Regions from separate parts of the Homo sapiens genome. Here region 2 is linked to region 1. Evidence: fine-mapped expression QTL. A gene starts in region 1. The other region holds a variant in brackets. All regions are shown on one strand. Distances are from middle to middle.

Region 1 (3,027 bases):
TCAAGCAATTCTTCTGCCTCAACCTCCTGAGTAGCTGGGATTACAGGCGAGCGACACCACACTCGACTAATGTTTTATATGTTTGGTAGAGACAGAGTTTCACCATGTTGGCCAGGCTGGTCTTGAACTCCTGACCTCAAGTTATCTGCCCACCTCGGCCTCCCAAAGTGCTGGGATTACAGGCGTGAGCCACCGCGCCCGACCAAATATGTTTTTTGTAAATGATAAAATGACAAGCAAAAATCATGATGGTTTAATAAACGTTCATTGCCCTACCCAAAACATAGTCCTGCCTGTAAGTGTGGCTCGTTTTGGGACCTCGGTGGCTTCAGACTTTCAAAAGGGTGGTTTTACTCCCAAAGTCCTGGCTTTTGGGACCTAAGGCAGAAGCTAGTGATGGAGACGGGGAGCTTGGCATGTTGCTTTGCTTCTGACAGGTTAGGAAGCCTCTTCCTTGTCTCCATCAGTAAACAAAGGGAAGTCATTATTCGCTCCTGCAGATGTTGTAACGTTAAAAAAAAATTGGCCATCAGATTGAGAGAAAAGGCTAAGTCACTGGAGCCAATTTCTTTTGTACAGATGAGAGAACTCAGGCGAAGAAAGGGGAAAGGACCTGCTCAAAGCCACAAAGTAACGTACAGCCAGGGCTAGAACCCAGATCTCTAGACCCCTAGTTCACTGCCCTTTCACTGGTGATTGCTTTCCAAAAACTCAATGCTCTCCAAGTCCGGAGCCCCATGTCCTTAAATGGAAGGTGATGGAGGCTCAGTGCTCCTGTCCAGAGACCAGGTGGGGAAGACTTTTTGGAGGCAGGGAAAGTGAGATGGGCAAAGCCAATATGCAGGACACCCTCCTACCTACCTACCTACCGTGCAATTACCTCAATCTTCACAACACTGTGAAGCGGAGACTATCATTATCATCCCCATTTTACTTCTGTAAAAGGGGGCCAGTAACACTGCAGGGATGTAAACGGAGGCCCAGGATCGTCCCATCGTCCCATCGTTCTCTGCAGCTCTTGCTCCTAGAGGCTGGCTATTGCTAAGGTCCAGAACGTGTGCAGGGCACAAAGCAAATAGGTCTCCGGGACTGGGATGAGGTTTTGCCTCTCTATACCCCGTGGTACCCAGCACAGCGTAGGCACGGGGTAGGTCCTGGCTGATCAATCGTCCTGCCTTTTGAAAATGCCATCTTTTCCACAGGCTTGGCCATGCTGTACACCCCGGGATACACCTTCTCATACCAAGTCTCCACTCTCATGTGGTTCTATTCTTGGACTTTCCATCGCCTCCACGTCCCCTGAATATTTTTTCTGTCTCTAGCTCTCAGGAACTTTGATTCCTTGGCTGCCTTATTCTTTGTGCACTTTGGTCAAGAGCCAAAGATCTACTGGTCTCAGCTTTCCCACCTGTACAAGGCGGTGCAGAGCCATTGGCTGGCTTTGACGCGCTATTAGTTCGAATTCGGGACGTAAGAACCGCACAAAATTACCGAGCCCCACTTTCTCTCCGCTCCCCACCATCCCCTCCCTCGTTCGGAAAGCGCCTGCGCAGAAGCCGCCGGCCCGCCCTCCACTATTCGAATCCGTATCCGCCCTTTTCGCGCCCTCGAAGACTCGGCGCTCGACAGGCGTCTACCAGCTTGTCTTCCGGTTTCGTCGCCGCCGCAGGCGCACCTGCCGAGTTCCGAGCGACCGATGGAGATGGCGGCTGCGGCTGAGTGACGGACGGTGGAGGCCCAGAGCCCGGGCCTGAAGGGGGGGACAAACCTGGGTGCCCGCAGGAGCCCGGCAGGGTACATACAGAGGGTCAGGCCCAGTCTGGGGGGCGGGGACACGACTCCTCCAGAACGGAGACGGGCGGGCCGTGTGTGGTTGTGGTGGGTGTGACGTGAGAGGTGGGAGATGGGGCTTTCAGGCCGTGCGTTTCGCTTGTGTGTGCCTTTGATGATTGGGCTCTGTGTGGTTGTGCGGTTACGCGGGGCGTATACACTTGGGTTTGGTTGTGCAGCTGTGGGTGGAGTGGGTGGGTGCTTGTCTCCCGAGCGGTTGTGTTTGATTCTCTGGTTGTGTAAAGCTGAAGCGTTTGTATTCTGAGTTCGTGTGGAGATGTTCGGAGTGTTTTGTGTGGTGTCTGTGCGATGTGTGACGTTGTCATGTCTGCTTCACGGGATTGAGTCGTTCGTGTTGTGTGTGGTCATGCGATGTGTGTATAATCATGTTAGTTATGTGGGTTGTGGTTGCGATCGTGAGGCCGGGTTGAGTGCGGCTGTGGGATGTGTCGTCGATGCGGCATGTGGCGGGGTGACATTCATGCTGGATGTACGGCTGCAGAACATGTAGCTATATTTATTTTTTTTATTTTTATTTTTTTTACTTTTTACGTGATTTAGAGTGCGAGGGGCTTGCTTATGTGTTCAGTTATGGTTGTGGGGTCCAATTCGGTGGTTGTGTTAGATTTCTTTATGGTGTATGCTTAGTTATATGATTTTGGAGTTCATTCATTTCTTCGTTCATTCATGGAGCTTTATTGTGCTGCTTCATTGTGTGTGCCAGGTACTGTGCTAAACCCTGGGGAGACGGCGAAGTGGAAAACATATAGAGTCTGTGCCCTCCCAGATTTTACAGTCTTACTTGGTCACTTCACGTATGTACCTGCGGTTATAAATTGAGATGAGTGCTGTGAAGGAGAAGTCCATTCTGATGCTCTGAGTAAGAGGCATTTCTTTTGAGGAAGTGAGGTTTGGGTTTGGGCTGAGGCGTGAAGGGTGGTTGTGTGGCATGGATGTGGTGGGCTTTGTGTTATTTGTGGTCGTTAGGGGTGAGTGCATGGGAAGAAAGGGAGCTGTCAGAGTCAGCATCAGATGAACCACTGGCTGGGGAGGGAACAGGCCAGACCTAGGGCTGCTATATTCCAGTGGAAAAGTTATGAAGTCACTGGGTTTCTTAACTAGAGGGAAAAAATAGGGACCTGGTGTCTCATTTGTTTATTTTCTGAGTTGCTGCCACCCTTCAGCTTTGAGGACCAG
Region 2 (2,500 bases), 150 kb before region 1:
GACAGGGGGTCTCACTATGCTGCCCAGGCTGGTCTGGAACTTCTGGGCTCAAGCTATCCTCCTACATTGGCCTCCCAAAGTGCTGGGATTACAGCCTTGAGCCACCACGCCTGGCCACAGGGTATAATTAAAAATATTGTCATTGGCCAGGCGCGGTGGCTCACGCCTGTAATCCCAGCACTTTGGGAGGCAGAGGTGGGTGGATCACAAGGTCAAGAGATCAAGAGCATCCTGGCCAACATGTTGAAATCCCGTCTCTACCAAAAATACAAAAATTAGCTGCGCATGGTGGTGTGCACCTGTAGCCTCAGCTACTTGGGAGGCTGAGGCAGGAGAATCGCTTGAACCCAGGAGGCGGAGGTTGCAGTGAGCCGAGATCACACACTGCACTCCAGCCTGGTGACAGAGCAAGACTCTGTCTCAAAAAAAAAAGAAAAAAAAAATTGTTATTGTAACAAATGGAAAGGCCTATGGGACAGGAAAGAAAGCCCTGAAACAAACTCTGAATTTACAGAAGTACTTAGCATATTATAAACGTGGCATTCCAAATCAGTAAGGAAAGATTCATTTAGATGGTGATGAGGTAACAAAAAATTTAGAAAAAAACTCTTAAATTGTATTTCATACCAAATATAAAAATATATTCATATGAATTTTTTAAATGCAAAAAATTGAACCATAAAATAATCAGAATATGGTGAAAATTAATTTGGTAATGTGGTGAGAGTTCCTGTCCACAGCAAAATGAAACCAGAAGACAGATTCATTATTTTAAAATGAAATGTTTTTCTATGTGGGAGAAAAATGACAATCTGAGAAAAATATCCACAAATATGTGAAGGAGTTAATACCCTTACCTTTTTCATGCTTATAATTAAAAAAAATGACAACTCTATGGGCAAGAAACATGAATAGGGAATAAACAATATTGTAATGAACATTATTACATGTTCAATCTATCTAGAAATTAAGTACAAAAGAGCAAATAGGTTTATTTACCTATTTCACCTATCAAACTGGTAGAGGTTTTAAAAATGACTTTCTTGTGGAAAAATAGTTTAATCAAATCTTCGTATCTAATGGGTTATTAACTGCTGCTGCTGGATTAGTTTGTAAGAAAAGCAAAATTAAGCCCAATCTTATTTAGAAGGTAGTTCTGTTTTTATTTGTATTCTGTTTTTGTTTTTTTTTTTTTTTTTTGGTTGTTGTATGAGACAGGGTCTCGCTCTGTCAACCAGGCTGGAGTGCAGTGGCATCATCTGGGATCACTGCAACCTCTGCCTCCCGGGCTCAAGTCATCCTCCCACCTCAGCCTCCCAAGTGGCTGGGACTATACAAAGCACATGCCACCATGCCTGGCTAAATTTTTAAAAAAATTTTTGCAGAGATGAGGTTTTGCCATGTTGCTCAGGCGGGTCTTGAACTCCTGAACTCGATCCTCCTGTCTTGGCCTTCCAAAGTGCTGGGATTA[C/T]AGGTGTTAGCCACCATGCCCAGGCTGTATTCTCTATATTTTTTAAACCTTTTAAAACTATGAAATATAACACTTAAGTAAAACATATATACAACTTAATCATTTGCAAAGTGAATAAACACCTGGGTAACCATCACCCAGATCAACAAATCCTCTCAGCACCACAGAATTCCCTGTATATTCCTAATTGCAACTCCTGTCCCTCGACAGAGCTTTTATAGTAATAACTCTCTTGCTCTGCTTTATAGTTTTACTACCTTAGTGTGCATCCTTACATGAGTATTTCAGTTTTGTCTGTTCTTGACTTCACAGAAGTAGAATCACATGGTATGTATTCTGTACATGTGGCTTTTTAAGACTTATCCATTATGTTGTGTGTAGCTGTAATTTATTTCCATTGTTATATCAGGACTATTATATGACTATATTATAATCTTAAATGTTGTCAATGAATATATGTTTCCAATTTCTGGCTATTACAATGGTTTACTGGCCATCTGGATTGCCCCCTTTATAATGTGTTTTTATTTTTTTATTTTTATTTATTTATTTATTTTTTTATTATACTTTAAGTTTTAGGGTACATGTGCACATTGTGCAGGTTAGTTACATATGTATACATGTGCCATGCTGGTGCGCTGCACCCACTAACTCGTCATCTAGCATTAGGTATATCTCCCAGTGCTATCCCTCTCCCCTCCCCTCACCCCACAACAGTCCCCAGAGTGTGATATTCCCCTTCCTGTGTCCATGTGATCTCATTGTTCAATTCCCACCTATGAGTGAGAATATGTGGTGTTTGGTTTTTTGTTCTTGCGATAGTTTACTGAGAATGATGATTTCCAATTTCATCCATGTCCCTACAAAGGACATGAATGTGTTTTTATTTTTTAAAAACTGCAGATTTTTTTCTTATCAATGCAGCATATTTACAAACATTTTAATATGCTCTTTGTCTTAAGAAATCTTTCCTCTCTTGAGGTTAAAACATTTCCTGCATTATCATCTAGAAGCTGTATTGTTTTGCCT

Evidence for each region. PIP is the estimated chance that this variant, and not a neighbour inherited with it, causes the effect. A credible set is the group of variants that fine-mapping cannot tell apart.
Region 2: its variant is the best candidate, but not a certain one, in a credible set for the expression of RBSN in nasal epithelium (TOPMed, PIP 0.84).

What each region holds. Positions count from the first base shown.
Region 1 is chr3:15,097,802-15,100,828 of GRCh38, reverse strand. RBSN (rabenosyn, RAB effector) reads left to right here and starts at 1,681. Exons shown (of 14, transcript NM_022340.4): 1 at 1,681-1,794; 2 at 2,555-2,710. RefSeq lists enhancers at 1,594-1,723, 1,612-2,476 and a silencer at 2,814-2,893.
Region 2 is chr3:15,247,707-15,250,206 of GRCh38, reverse strand. All of the region lies in intron 19 of CAPN7 (calpain 7), which reads right to left. Among named protein-coding and RNA genes, the nearest start is that of SH3BP5-AS1, 5.2 kb to the left of the region's middle. The variant C/T (reference allele first, on the strand shown) is at 1,472.